Linked DNA regions of Homo sapiens: region 1 is linked to region 2. Evidence: fine-mapped expression QTL. Tissue or cell type: whole blood. Region 2 holds a variant in brackets; the other region holds the start of a gene. All regions are shown on one strand. Distances are between the middles of the regions.

What was found. PIP is the estimated chance that this variant, and not a neighbour inherited with it, causes the effect.
Region 1: it holds the start of ADPRH, and the variant in region 2 is fine-mapped to the expression of ADPRH in whole blood (INTERVAL, PIP 0.96).

The regions. Positions count from the first base shown.
Region 1 is chr3:119,574,871-119,582,977 of GRCh38, forward strand. It overlaps ADPRH (ADP-ribosylarginine hydrolase), which reads left to right and starts at 4,622. Exons shown (of 5, transcript NM_001125.4): 1 at 4,622-4,981; 2 at 5,681-5,766; 3 at 7,264-7,597. The coding sequence starts at 7,300. RefSeq lists enhancers at 4,226-4,727, 4,512-4,611, 5,552-5,771, 6,876-8,075, 7,239-7,538 and a silencer at 4,792-4,931.
Region 2 is chr3:119,782,524-119,790,630 of GRCh38, forward strand. All of the region lies in intron 1 of NR1I2 (nuclear receptor subfamily 1 group I member 2), which reads left to right. Among named protein-coding and RNA genes, the nearest start is that of NR1I2, 4.5 kb to the left of the region's middle. The variant G/A (reference allele first, on the strand shown) is at 3,457.

The DNA.
Region 1 (8,107 bases), 210 kb before region 2:
TGGGGGAGGCGAGTCTTTTTTCTATTAAGGCTTTCAACTGATTGGAATGAGGCTCATCCACATTAGGGAGAGTAATCTGCTTTACTCAAAGGCTACTGATTTAGATGTGAATCTCATCTTAAAAAATACCTGCACAGAAACATCTAGAACAATGTTTGACCAAATATCTGGGCACTGTGGCCTAGCTAGGCTGACAAAATTAGCCATCACAGATGCTCTCTAAATCTTCTTGAATTGAATTGACAACACAGGATATGTGAGCAGCTACTTTTGGTTACTTATCTTCAAACTCATCAAGTTGTATACCCGAAATATGTACAGCTTTTTGTATCTCAGTCATATCTCAATAACGTGATTTAAGAAAACATATAAACACTTTTTTGGTAATTTTAAAAATATGTTAGCAGCCGAAAAATGAGATCACTTGGGTGCTCTAGAAGAGCAGGGGCTGTCAGGGCCTAGCATATACTTACACAGCAGGTATTCAATGTCTGAAGAATGTATAAAGATCATTCTTGTAAGTGACCAGTTTGTTAAGAACAGTGTCATTGTTCCGACCTTATAGATGAAGTGTCTGAAATATCTTAAGATCAGGTCCGAGGGCTACAAGTTTATTTCTCAGCAACAGCCTCAGCATAGCAATTGATTCTGTATTGGTGAGTAATGAAGATGCCTATGATGTGTCTTCCTCAATAAAACTAAGAGCAAGGAACCAACTATGCAATATATTTGTCTTTCCAGGACCTATACTAATGCCTAGCACCTAGTAAGATGCCAAGTAACTATTTGTTCTTCTTGGCAGAACAACATTCACTGTTTCCTTTGCAAACAAACCCTGATTTTTGTAAAAGAACCTACCTCTACCTCTCAGGGAAGATGTGTCTATCCTTGATCTAAGGGAAACATCATAATCCAGCCTGCCTGCCAGGAATTGGTTTAGACTTCTGGAGGATCTTTGAGAATAGTTTCTTCATCTTGAAAGAAGAAACACTCTCTTTTTCCACTGGACACTGTCTATAACTGTAACTGCAATGTGTTATTATGCATACACATTATCTTGACTGCCTAGTTAAATAATCAGAGCTAAACAAAAATTTTCGAAGAAATTAACAGTAAATGGTTAATAGGCAACGCCTCTTGGGCTCGCTAGCAGACACAAAATAGCAAAATGGTTTAAACAAAAACAAACCGAAGGATAAGACCTCTATATACATTTGATAAAATAAATTAAAATGGGGAAAATATGATCTTGTGCCAATTAAAAACGTCAGTCTGGGGATAAAAATAACTGAAGATAGTAGGTCAGAAAGATAAGAAGAACAGGGTCTTTCTTTGATGATAGTATACAGTTGCTAAATTAACCCTGGGACTTCTTACCTTTAGACATTTTGTTACATAAGATAATAAGTGCCATTATTATTTAAGCCCAGTGAGTATGTGGTGTTTTGGGGGTGGGGAAGAGTGATGGTTATTTGCCGTTATTTGGAGCTGGAAACATGCTAACTGATAAATTATCCTTTTGGTTTATAGGACAATGTCCTTGATGCCCAAAAACATTTTCTAATTTTGACAGAAGAGAAAGGATGTCAGTAGGTGTTAACTAATGTGAAAAGAAGGTAGAATGGCTCATGTGTGTGATGGAGATGAGAACTGGGAATACAGAGAGATATCTGACCTGGTAGTAATTTTTTCTTGCATGACTACTACATTGATAAGCACTGTGCTAAAATTTTTCAATTAATTATTTCATGCAATCTTCAAACCAACTTTATGAAATATGTACTATTATTTTTCCTACTTAATAACAGAAAGTGAAGCTTAGCAAGATGAAGTGACTTGTCTAAAATCACTTACTCAAGCTAGTGTTTTTTGTTTGTTTGTTTTGTTTTGAGATGGAGTCTCACTCTGTCGCCCAGGTTGGAGTGCAGTGGCACGATCTCAGCTCACTGCAACCTCCGCCTCCTGGGTTCAAGCAATTCTCCTGCCTTGGCCTCCCGAGTAGCTGGGATTACAGGCACCCACCACCATGCCCGGCTAATTTTTTATTTTTAGTAGAGACAGGGTTTCACCATGTTGGTCAGGCTGGTCTCGAACTCCTGACCTCATGATCCACCTGCCTTGGCCTCCCAAAGTGCTGGGATTACAGGCGTGAGCCACCGTGCCTGGCCCCCAAGTGTTGTTACAAGGGTTTGAAACCAGATAGCGTGGATGTGTCGGGAGTCTATGCTAATGGTCACAAAGTTCATAGGCACCATAAAGTTCAAAGCAAACTAATTGCTAACAACCCCAGTTTTTCTGTTTGTTTTTGTTTGTTTGTTTGTGTTTTGAGACAGGGTCTTGCTCTGTCGTCCAGGCTGGAGTGCAGTGGCACAATCTCAGCTCACTGCAACCTCTGCTTCCTGGGCTCAAGCAGTCCTCCCACCTCAGCCTCCTGAGTAGCTCAGACCACAGGCGCATGCCTGGATAATTTTTGTATTTTTTGTAGAGAACAGGTTTCACCATGTTGCCCAGGCTGGTCTCGAACTCCTGGTCTCAAGCAATCTGTCCCCCTTGGCCTCCCAAAGTACTGGGATTACAGGTATGAACCACTGTGCCCAGCCCCAGTTATTCTTTACATTTAAGTCAAAAACGAAAACAAAAAATCACCCTTTCCCATGGATTCTCACAGAAAGATCACTACATAATATGAACAATATCCTCAGCAGACATCTTAAGCTGAAACTGTGTTGAGTTTTATCGGGATGCTTATTATTCAAAATGTCTCTTACTACAGAACTTGCTTTGACTGCATCCTCAGAGGCTGAAAATCTTTGACAGTTGAAAGAATGAAGGATGTGCCATCCCCAAATATGCCATATAATATATTGATTACTTTGAGTTGAAAACATTAGAGAAATTATAGTTTCAGAAAGGGTAAAACTGAGGGCTGACCTGATTAGGCCTGACACTTAATTTGCCTTGCTTGCTTTTGGTCACTTGCTTCTAGTCGATTTTAAAACCTGCATAGCTAAAAGTCATGTAGCTAGACGATACATAACTAAATTCCACTTGCCTCCTTATAGATAACTTCTCTGATAGGACACCATGGAAAATATTGCTTAAGTTATTTTTCAGGAACTTAGAGTCAGTTCTTGTCCAGTTCAAGCCACCAGCCCTTCATCTTGGCCTGCGTGAGTGTCCAATGGGTGACCTTTTGACATCAGAAGGCCCAAAACTCCACTCTCAGATCATGCTAACGTCACGATTTTGTGAACATGTGTTCTATGAACAGCCATGAAGATTGACTATGCTTGCTCAGATTACCGATTGCCTCACTTTTCCTTACCTCATCTTTCTCTGAACCTTGGACCACCTTCCTCCCCTATCCCATAAGCACTCCTAAAATTCCATCTTTGGAAAGGCACATTTGAGGCCTGTTCTCCAGTCTCCTGTCTTGGCTGCCTTGTGAATACACCCTTTCTCTACTGCAAAACTTGTGCGCCTCAGTGATTGGCATACTGTGTGAAAGACAAATGAGCCTGGTTCCCTGACAGGAGCTGAGCTGTCTCTTCCTGCATGCAGCCAGCAATAAAGATTCCTCTAGGAGAGGTATGTTCTCCACGCCAGAGCGAGAAAATAGCTCTCATCACCAGAGATTTGGAACTGGAGGTGGCATTTGGACTGGAGTAAACATTCTTGCAAAGTAACCATTATCTTCCACCTGTTTTACACCCCACCCCCCATATATCTCCTAGGGGCTCCCCTAGAAATTTTTTACCACCCTAGCCGGATTTTCTTTGTCCTGTCACTTCTTCTTAAATTTATCACTCTTTTTCTAAAAAGTATAAAAGCATCTTGCTTTGGACACTTTCTTCAGGATTCAGTCTCTTAACATCCCCATGTACATGTAAAATTAATAAAATTTGTATACTTTTCTCTTGTTAATCTGCCTAGTGTCAATTTGGCTTCTAGATGCAGCTGATTAGCTCACTAAGAGCTAGAGGGTGTAGGGGGTTGGAGGTGATCTCTGCCTCCCTTATTGGTGAACTTGATTTTTGTAAACACTCAAAAGTCACTTAGGCTAGAGTTGGAGATGGAGATGGTTATTCACTGGGAAGGCCACAAGAGAATGTTTTAAAGTGATGGAAATATTTCATATCTCGATTATGGTGTAAGGACATTTCATTATATATAAATTATATATCAATTTTTTAAAAAGCTCTCAGACCAAGGCTAGTCATTACAGCAAGAAAATAGGCATAGCAAATTTAAAACTTTGGAGAAATATATAGAATATTTGCATATGGTGATTCTGATTTGCTTTAAAAGTGACATGATTAATGTATTTAGACAAAAATACTCTTCGTTTTTCTTTGCTTTTATTTACGATCAGGATACAAGAATTCTACGCTGCTGCCAAATAAATGACTAGTTAAAATTAACTAACTGAATCCTTAACAACCATTCTAAGAGGCAGATATTATTATCCCACTTTATGCGTGAGGGCCCAGAACCCTGGCAAGGGCGGCACACTCAGTACGCTCTTCAAGCATCTGGGCACACCCGGTCCACTACAGTCCTACAAAGTCGGACGTGAGCACGGGCGAAGGCGTCAGCCGGGGCCACACGGGAGTCACTGACCACAGCCAGGCGAGAGCCGGCTTTCCGGTGCCGCCACATTCCGGGCACCAGGCTCCGGGCTCTTCAGAGCATTTGGGGCGGGCGACGGAGGTCCCGTCCACTCTCGCTTGGGTGCAGAAGGGCGCGGCGGTGCCAGGAAGCCGCCTTGGAGGCTCCAAGATTAGCTCACTCAGCGCGGCCAAGCGCAGGTGCGGGGGCCCTCGCCGCCACCCTGCTTATCTGGGGACAGTCCCGGAACCCGGTGACCCGGCTCCGCCCCAACCCGCGCCCTCGTCCACCCGCAGCAGCCAAGGCCTCTTCCCCGGCCCCGGGAGCCCGCGCCACGCCCGTCGCTCGCGCGTTCCAGTCCAGGCTACAGCAGGTATCGCGATCCCGGCCCTCGGCCCCGCGCTCCCCTCCCCCGCCCCTGGCGCTCTCCGAGTGTGGCCGACCATGAGGATTCCCAGTCTTGCAAATCGTGGGAGCGTGTCAACCGCCCCGTTTCTTTCCAAAGCCGGGCATGGCCCGGAAGCAGCTGATCAGATCTTAGTTCTGAATGTATAGTTCGGGTACGAGAATGTGACCCGTGAAAGTTCAGAGGAGTTAAGTAATTACAGCGTTCTGAAAGCGAACGTTAAAGGGAATTTACAACCGAAAAAAGATGCCGGTCTTCTTCCCCCATCCCAGCTTGCAATTCACAGAAGCACACATTAGGGTGGAGCCAGAAGGAATTACGGAAAGGACAATGAGGACATTGAGAGGGAGGGTATGGGGGGTTAAAGTTAGTCCTCCGAGGCCAAGAAGCAGAGTGTCTTGGCCTAGTGTCTGAAAATCGCAGCGCAGGACGGAACTTCCGAGAGCCTATACCTCCCCACTTCCCCCTCCAGTTTACAGATGGGCAAACCGCTGTCCCGGGTGTCTGTCAGGTCTAGTAGCCCAGAATCTCAGTGCCTAGGCTTCACTGTAAATAATAAACTATGTAAATAACATTTACAAATATCCTTTGTGAGCTCAGAAACTCAGCATTACCAGTAACTGGGTAGTGGAACGCATCCATCTTCGTCGTTTACTCCTTCTCCAGGGGCTCTCCAGCCTGCATTCCATGGCCAACAGCAGTGCAGCTGCAGAAGCACTTCTGGAAGCCTCCTGACTTGAACTAGACCTTGGGTAAATAGGGTTTAGATAAGTGGAGGGGAGGGAAAAGTTTCACCTGAGGGGAGAATGAGCTAGTCTGCCAGACCCTTATAAAAGTATTGGCCTGGATGGGATGGAGGGCTTTGACCTGAAAGCCACAGGGAGAAGGGAACCCTGAGGAATTGGCTGAAAGAGGGGGGTTCTTAGGAAATGCACCAACAGGGAAGCCAGCGCTTTACCAGGGATTTCATTCATGGTGGGTATATTATTAATAGAGATTCGAATTCTCTAGAAGCTGATCATTTCTAAGAGAAACAATATTTAAACATTACTGTCGAAGGAAAGGTTGTGGGGAGAAAATGTTCTAGTTCTAAAACAGAACACCCATTTTCCCTGGTTGTATATGAATAATACAAATATGTCAAAAATCAAGCTTACTATGTGCCAAGCACTCTAAGAACTTTTTTTTTTTTTTTTTTTTTGAGACAGAGTCTTGGTCTGTCGCCCAGGCTGGAGTGCAGTGGCACAATCTCGGCTCACTGCAACCTCTGCCTCCTGGGTTCAAGCGATTCTCCTGCCTCAGCCTCCTGAGTAGCTGGGACTACAGGCATGCACCACCATACCCGGCTAATTTTTGTATTTTTAGTAGAGATGGGGTTTCACCCTGTTGGCCAGGCTGGTCTCGATCTCCTGACCTCAGATGAGCCACCCACCTCGGCCTCCCAAAGTGCTGAGATTACAGGCGTGAGCCACCGCGTCCAGCCAACTTTATGAAATTTAATTTATTTATTCCTAACAACAAATCCAGGAGGTTGTTACTTTTTAAAATCAGTGCCATTTTATAAATGTGGAGGCTGAGGCACCAAGAGGTTGCCCAAGGTAAGAAGATCTGGACTGAGGCTGAGTGGTGTGATACCAAGCATCCTGGCTTGGCTGGAATCAGATTTGGGTTCCAGTACTTCCACTCCTCTTGTTTTGTGAATTTAGCTTATCTGAGCCTTCATTTTCTTATCTGTGAAATGCATACTGTAATCCCTCCCTATTAGTGAGACAATGAATGTGCAGGTGCTTTGTGAACTACACATTGTGACACTAATAGGAAGTGTAAAGCCTTGCACTTCTAAGGCCAAATCCCAGCTAAGAAGAGCAAATGATGAGCTGGGTTTGACTTGCAGAATTTAGTGGGCTTACTACTCACCAAGAGGCAAGAGATACAGTTGTAGTTATGATGATAGACTTTGGAGTCAGATGGACCTATGTTGGGATCCCAGCCCTGCCACTTATTGGCTCTGTGACCTGAGACAAGTCACTGAACATTTCTCAAACTGCATTATCTCCATGGTCCTCCATTTGTTCATACATAAAATGGGCTTTATATTCCTCATAGAGCAGTGATGAGGATTACATGAGATGCCACTGATACAATGTCTGCAAGTAGTGAGTGCTCAATAAAACATAGCTAGAGTCGTTGTTTTTTCTGATTCTTCTTGCTCCTCATCCTATTTCCTTTGTCTTAATTTCCCCACAAAGACACCCTCTCCAGAGCCCAGCAATTGTGAGGGACTGATGGAGAAGTATGTGGCTGCTATGGTGCTGAGTGCAGCTGGAGATGCCCTGGGGTACTACAATGGGAAGTGGGAGTTCCTCCAGGATGGGGAGAAGATACACCGGCAGTTGGCCCAGCTGGGCGGCTTGGATGCCCTAGACGTGGGAAGGTGGAGAGTTAGTGACGACACAGTGATGCACTTGGCCACAGCAGAAGCTCTTGTGGAAGCTGGGAAAGCCCCTAAGTTGACTCAACTGTATTACCTCCTTGCTAAGCATTACCAAGACTGCATGGAAGACATGGATGGGCGGGCACCAGGTGAGCACAGCCGGTGGGAGGTGCAAGGAGGGCAAAGAATAAAACAGCCTTGAGGAAATCATTAAGAATGTTGATGGAGATTTAAATAACAGAGACAATAGTGTTTGTAAATGTGATAAAAATAGAAATAACGGCCATGGTGGTGGCTCATACCTGTAATTCCAGCTCTTTGGGAGGCCAAGGTGAGAGAATCACTTGAACCCAGGAGTTCAAGACAAGCCTGAGCAATATACGGAGACCCTGTCTCTAGAATGGGGTAGCCAATCCCTCTTCTAGAGACAGGTACTGATCCGTGGCTTGTTAGGAACTGGAGCACACAGCAGGAAGTGAGTGATGGGCGAAGGAGCATCATCACCTGAGCTCTGCCTCCATCAGATCAGTGGCGCATTAGATTCTCATAGGAGCCTGAACCCTGTTGGGAACTGCACATGCGAGGGATCTAGATTGTGGGCTTCTTATGAGAATCTAATGTCTGATGATCTGTGGTGGAACAGTTTTGTCCCAAAACCT
Region 2 (8,107 bases):
GCACTAGCCTCCTAGAAAAATCACCACAGGAGAAGCCTTAACTACTGCATGAGTTACCACAAGTCACACATACAACCAGCTCCCTGTTACAGGGCTGGAGTCCCTGGACCCAGGAAATACCACCTCCAAGGACTGTGGGAGCTGGGGACTATGGGAACTGGGATCAACTCAGTCCTGATTCCTTTTGGCCTGCTGGGTTAGTGCTGGCAGCCCCCTGAGGCCAAGGACAGCAGCATGACAGTCACCAGGACTCACCACTTCAAGGAGGGGTCCCTCAGAGCACCTGCCATACCCCTGCACAGTGCTGCGGCTGAGTTGGCTTCAAACCAGTGAGTTTTCTACCTCTACTATTGAAAGGGCACCTTGTCCCACAGAACCGAGTCTTGCCTGCATGTGGTCAGTGCCACCAGGTCCTTCTTCTCTCCACTTTACAGCCCAGCTCGGCTGAAGCTATGGCCAGAGGCACTGCTTTAAGGCCACTCCATATCTAGGACAGGTCAACAGACACCTCTGAGGCCACTGAGTCTTGACTCAATGAATCAGCTATAGCAGGCACTATTCCTCTCCCACATGGCCTCTAATGATATGGTCAGAGTTGAAAGGATGCTAAGGGAGGCCTCAGAGGCTTATTTAATCAGTTGGTTAATGGGAAAAAGTATTTTGTGGTACACAAATACGCTTTAAAAATATTTTAGTTATGTCATAAAAGTCTAAACCTGGGGTTGACAAACTATGGCTCACAGGCTAACTCTGGCCCACCAGCTGTTTTTATAAATGAAGCTTTATTGGAACACAGCCATGCCCATTCGTTATGTATTGTATATGGCTGTTTTTGCCCTACAACATCCTTTCAACTCTGGCCATATCATTAGAGGCCATGTGGGAGAGGAATAGTGCCTGCTATAGCTGATTCATTGAGTCAGCAAAATTGACCAATTGCGAAAGAGACAGTATGGCCCACAAAGCCTAAAATATTAACTATCTGGCCTTTAACAGAAAAAGTTTGCCAACTCCTGATCTAAAAGCTGTCAACTTGTTCCAAAATTATTATGGAATAAACCCAAGACAACCACAAAACTGACTAGACTAGGTTTTTTAGGTAATAACTTTTTAAATTATAAAGTAATACATGATTTCATGCTCCTTGAAAATGAGAAAGCAGTATAGATAAACCTAAATTCACCTTTGGCCATTCTGTCAATCCTAATCTCCAGTTTCCCCAAAAGTACTTAGTGTGATATATTTACTGCCAGACCATTGTGTCTGTGTGTGTGTTCATCTATGCATAGATGGACTATTAAACCTATCTGTTGCCATGTTGTTCTAATTCTGTTTTTCCACTCAATAGCAAGACTTGGAGACTTTCCATATCTGTATAGAGCTCTACTTCATTTATTTTAACTGCTACGTCATATTTCACAGTGTACACTTCTTTTATTTAGCCGTTTTCTTTTCGATAGATATTTAAGCTTTTCCAATTTTTCAGTCTTACCAATGAACCTCACTGTGTTTGTCTGCTTCTAGACATGTGCACGTATTGCACTAGAGGAACTACTAAGACGTTGAATTGCCACATCACAGGATATATGTGGTTCAATTTTTGGCTGCCAAACAGCCCTCCACAGTACCCGAACCGACTGTACTCCCACCAGCAGAGAAGGATAGTTACTGTTCCTCCACACTCCAAACAATGCTTGCTGTTTATTCAGTATTTTATTATTTTTTCCATTGAATTAGTGCAAATGACAACCCATTATTTCAATATTTTAATTTCCCTGATTATTAATGAAGTTGAGCATTCTTTTTATAGGACCCCTCTTGGCCATTGTATTTCTCTTCTTAAATTACCTATTCATATCCTTAGCTTATTTTATGTCGGATTTTTTTTCTTCTTTGTAGGAGTTTTTTATTTATTCTCAATGCAAATTATTTGATATGTGTGTAATATTCTCTCTAAGCTTTGTTTAAATCATACTTTTTAGCCAACAGAAATTTTTACTATTATTGTTGTTGTTATTTTGATGTAGTTGAATCTGTTAGTTTCCCTCTTTCTGGATTTTACTCTTTGAGGCTGATTTTTAAAAGATTTCTCAACTTCCAAAATTATGAAGCTACTTTGGTGCACCTTCCTGTAATACTTTTATTTAAAAAGTTAGTCTTTATTCACCTGGCACTTATTGCAATACATTATTTCAATACTATTTATTGAAAAGTCCATCTTTTTCCTATTTGTTTGAAATATCACCTCTATCATGTACTAAATTCCCACTTACACATGTCCATTTCTGTGTCCTTTTGTATTTATTTCCTATTCCTGAGCCAATTTCCACTATAATGTTTACCTTTTCTACTTGATTTTTTCCCCCAATAAATAGAAAATCTATTTTGTGTTTTGATATTTTGCCTAGTTACCTTATGGAATTCTCTTAATAGTTATAAAAGCTTATCAGTTGATTCCTTTGGAATTTCTAGTTAGACAAACATATCATCTATATATAGTAAGAGTTTTGCTCCTTCCTTTCCAATCTTTACAAACCTTAATTTTTTGTGTCTTATTGGTTTTTCTTTGCCATTCAGCATAATGCTGAGTAGTAGCCATGAAAGTAGATAGTCTCAGAAGTGATGCATACAGTTGTGTGGGTTCTATACTGCACAATTCTAGGAGATACTCTTTACAAACACTTAGATGTCCTAGGAATTCTTGTCATGTTCCTGATTTCCATTTTTATTTTGTACTATGAACTCATTTGGAAACTTCTCTTTGGGACTTGTTGAGATTGAAATTGTTTTCCTCTAGAGGATTTATTTTTGCTTTTGCCAGGAACCTGAGGACAGAACTAACTGGGACCACCATAAGCTTGGGGTCTACTGGCCACACAAATAGTGAGAATCCTGACCCAAACTTACTTGATTGCAGGCCTGTTGTTAAGAATTTCAAAGGAGACTTTTCTTTTTGCTCTACCCAGAGCCAAGGCTGAGAAGGCCTGGGATAGACCTGTCTCCCTCCATGGTTTCTACTGAGGATGTCACCCTTAGGGGATCTTGAGTTTATAGTCTATGATCTGGTTAGGCTCCAGGCTTTGTCTCCTATTCTACCATTAAAATCCAGGCCCCAGGCCTACAGGAGTCCAGAAAACTCCAGGATGATCATGACTTCCCTTTCTCATGCCTCTGGCTTAGCATAATCTTATAAATTTTGGCCTCTTGAGACTTCCTTTACTTTCCTACCAGCTCAATCCTGCATGAAAAATGACATTCTTAAAAATTTAGTATTTCTAGGTGCTGCATACCAGGAGGATTTTCTGTAACCAACTTCTCCATCATAGTGCCAGCAATAAAATCTTTATTTTTTATTTTAATGAGATTGATTCTAATGCTTCTCCAATAAGATAGCTAGTAAAAGTGTTTAGTAACTATTCCATATCAAGTTAGTGAAGCTCTCTTCTATTCCTCTTG[G/A]TTAACCAAGAATTTTAAATCATGAATGAATATTGAGTTTTATTAAATGCTGTTAAGCATTGATTAATTTCCTTATCATATCTCCATAGTTAATTATATAGCTCATCCCAAGGGTGATAGAAGCAGAGATGATCCAATAGCCACTAGGACCCTTGGAATGCAGACCCATGATTTTTCCATTAAAAAGAACAATAAATTCAGGGAACGTGGACAACATTAATTCAAATTCTTAGTGTGGTTGCCACGTTCTGTTTGTTGAGCCATCAGACTCTTGCCCTCACACTTCAGATATTGGTGTCCTGGGCACAACCTGGGGAGGACAGGAGGAATGTGTAGGGAACCTCTCTTGCATACAGGGGCTTTTTAGGTGGCACAATTTGAAGGGGGCTGGGAAAAGTTCCCTGCAACACCTCCTGAACCTCTTTGAAACATCGATATAACAAACTGAATATCCAACTGGAAATTGACATAAAGAGACATATCCAAATCCCTCATGTAATGTTTGAAATAATTTTCCTGGATCTGTGTAAGTTCCAAAGAGTCAAACTATAAAACCACAGGCAACACTGGCACTACACATGCATTGATAAGACATAGGCAGTTAACTCAGAGGCCACTGTGTCCTGTTAAATATTGGAAGAGGGTACTGTGTGTACTTATGACCTGGGCTGGTGCCAGCTCTCAACCCTGATCTGTGTCTAGTAACCTTCTGACCTCTTGGATCTGATGACCAAGTCCCAGGAAGCATAAAGGCCAATTTTCATTTATGGCCCCCTGAAGAGAGCAGCTGACTTCTCTTTCTTGAATTCATAAACCGTGACTTTGGCTATCTGAGTTTCCTCTGGAGGCCTGCCCCATGCCAGGGCCAGTGAGGAGGTTTTGTTAATAATACTTGATTTGTTTCATAAAGAATTTAAAACATATAGCCTCATTTTGCCCCCATGAATTCTGTGAAAAAACAACTTGCATCATGTATCTATTTACATGACAGGAAGAATCAGAATAAGGGAAAAGAAAAGATGTTCTGGCCAGGCATGGTGGATCATGCCTGTAATCCCAGCACCTTGGGAGGCCGAGGCAGGTGGATCACTTGAGGTCAGGAGTTTAAGACCAGCCTGGCCAAAATGGCGAAAACCCGTCTCTACTAAAAATACAAAAATAATCCAGGTGTGGTGGCACACACCTGTAATTCCAGCTACTTGGGAGGCTGAGGCACGAGAATCATTTGAACCCAGAAGGTGGAGGTTGCAGTGAGCAGAGATCATACCATGGCACTTCAACCTAGGGGACAGAGTGAGACTGCCTCCAAAAAAAAAAAAAAAGTTCCGTCATTAATTGACTTCATGAACTGGAACACACCCCAGAGCCCCAGTTTCCTCATTTGCAAAAGGGATAATAAGAACTGCCCTGCCCCCGACTCCCTTATTCAACTTGGGATAAGCCCTGCCCTGCCTTCCTCACAGGCACCTTGACATGAAGTTGTAATTTTGAAATCATTTTGTAAACAGCAAAACTTGTGCAAATGTGAGTTAAATTCACCAAACGTCTCCCTTCACTGAACAACGTCAATGGTTTTATAGGCATCACTTGCCTGCATCTTAGAAATTCAGTATTCTTATATTACATTCCCCTTACTTGCTTTTTTCTCTTTATCCTCTGGCCAGTTCTGCTATTAATATGTGTGTGTGTGTGTGTGTGTGTGTGTGTGTGTGTGTGTGTGTGTGTGTGGTGTGTATGTGTATCTTGGAGATAGTAGGATGATTATATATATATTTAATTATGCGTGTGTGTATATATATGTGTGTATACACACATAATTAAATATATGTAATCGTGTGTATGTATATGTATGTATACACACACACATAATTAAATATAATCCTGCTATCTCCAAGAGTTTCTATCCCAAAGATTATGATTTTTGTTTTTTTATCCATTTACCCCCTTTTACTTAGACTCTGTTGCTTCAAATTCAAGTTGCCCACTCTTCTCTTCCCATAATCTCAGTGACCTGGTTCCAAAGCTTGTGCTTTGACTCATTTGAAGACTAAATTTATCTGTATGTCCTCCCCACATCCTTTTCCTGGGAAGGAACTATCTCACCCTCAAAGTACATTGACTTTTTAAAAAATTATTATTATTATTACTTTAAGAGACAGGGTCTTGCTGTGTCACCTAGGCTGGAGAGCAGTGGTATGATCATGGCTCACTGCAGTCTCGAACTCCTGGGCTCAAGTGATCCTCCCGCCTCAGCCCCCCAGAGAGCTGGGACTACAGGTGTGTGCCACCATGCCCAGACACTTTTAAAATTTATTTTTGGTAGAGACAAAGTCTCATGTTGTTGCCCAGGTTCATCTGAAATTCCTGGCCTCAAGTGATCCTCCTGCCTCAGCCCCCCTAAGCATTGGGATTACAGGTGTGAGCCACCATCCCTGGCCATCATTATACAAATTTATTTATTTATTTTCATTTGATTGAGACAAGGTGTCATTCTCTTGCCCAGGCTGCAGTGCAGTGGGACAATCATGGCTCACTGTAGCCTTGACCTCCTGGGCTCAAGTGTTCTTCCTGCCTCAGCCTCCCAAGTAGCTGGGACTACAGGCACATGTCACCACACTTGGCTAATTTTTTATTTTTTTGTAGAGATGGCATCTCACTGTATTGCCCAGACTTGTCTCGAACTCCTGGCCTCAAATGATCCTCCTGTTTCAGCTTCCCTAAGTGCTGGGATTACAGGTGTGAGGCACTGTGCCCGGCCTGTATATTGACTTTAAACAACAATTTATAATGTGAGTCATTTCACATATCTCTTTGATTATTTATTTTATTTCCTAGCACCATAAAGTTGTTTTTATTGACAAGATCATCTTCTCCATGCCAGTCTGTTTGTGTACTGCCAATTTTCTGTCTGGTTAGTTGGATTTCCCTGCTACTACTGCAAGTGTGGACTGCAGACCCATAGCATCAGCTCACCTGGGAGCTTGTGAGATGCTGAAGCTCAGACCCACCACAGACCTACTGAATGGGAATTTGCATTTTCATAAGCTCCTGGGTGATCTGTATGTACTTGAAAGCTGGAGCATCACTCTCTTAGATTGTAAGCACAGGCTCCAGGTTACCTTAAACGGGGGCACTTCTGAAGCAGGCATGGGAGAGAAGGAAGGCAAAAATCTCAATTGCCAGGGCCCTGACCTCCTAGAGATTAAAATGTAGTTCAGAACTCAGGTTGGGATCAAATGCACTTTAATTGACATGGTTATCTTTTTCTTCCTGATTGTAGTGCTTTTAACTACTGTATTAGTCCATGTTCACATTGCTGATAAAGACATACCTGAGACTGGGTAAATTACAAAGAAAAAAAGGTTCAATGGACTCACAGTTCCATGTGGCTGGGGAGGCCTCACAAACATGGTGGAAGGCAAACGGCATGTCTTACATGGTGTCAGGCAAGAGAGAGAATGAGAACCAAGCGAAAGGGGTTTCCCCTTATAAAACCATCAGATCTCATGAGACTTATTCACTGCCATGAGAACAGTATTGGGGGAACCGCCCCCATGATTCAATTACCTTCCACCAGGTCCCTCCCACATATGTAGCATTATGCAAGCTACAATTCCAGATGAGATTTTGGTGGGGACACAGCCAAACCATATCAACTATTGATGTTACTTTCCTTTGTTTCCTTTCTTTCTGCTGCTTCTCCTCCTCACAACTTCTGTTTCCTCGGGGCCCTTCCTGCTTCACAGCTTCCCTGTCCTGCCTTCTCTCTGAGTGCACTGTGGCTGCCATGCACAGGGCAGGACTGAGGCACCCCAACCAGTCTACTATTTTGGCTTCCTTTTCAATTTAAATTCAATTTAAATATTATTTAAATATTTGATCAACATTTATTTGGTGATGTTCTTTTTTTAATTTGTAAAATATACAGAAGGAGCAGGATTGAAAAATTAATTAGTTCTGGTAAAATTCAAATAACAAATTTTACCATCTTAAGCATTTCTAAGTGTATAGCTCAATAATGTGAAGTATGTTTTCATCGTTGTGCAGCCAATCTCCAGAGGTTTTTCATCTTTTAAGATGGAAACTCTACCCATTAAACAACTCCCATTCCCCTCACCCCACAGCCCCTGGCAACCACCATTCTACTTTCTGCTTCCATGAGCTTGACTACTATACCTCATATTTGTCTTTCTGTGACTGGCTTATTTCACTTAGCATAATGTCCTCAAGGTTCATCCGTATTGTAGCATGTGTTAGAATTTCCTTTTTTTTAAGGCTGACTCATATTCTATTGTAGTATGTCCCATGTTTTGTTTATCCATTCATCAGTTGATGAAATTTGGGTTGCTTCTACATTTTGTCTATTGCGAATAGTGCTGCTGTGAACATCAGTGTACAAATATCTCTTCAAGACCCCGATTTCAGTTCTTTTTGGATATACATCCAGAAATGGTTGCTGAATTATATGATAATTCTATTTCAATTTTCTGAGAAATTGCCATATTGTTATCTATAATGGCTACACCATTTTTACATTCCTACCACCTGAGTCCAAGGTTCCCATTTGTCTACAGCCTTGCCAACACTTGTTATTTTCTGTTTATGTGATAGCGGCCATCCTGAATATAAAGTGATGTTTCATTATGGTTTC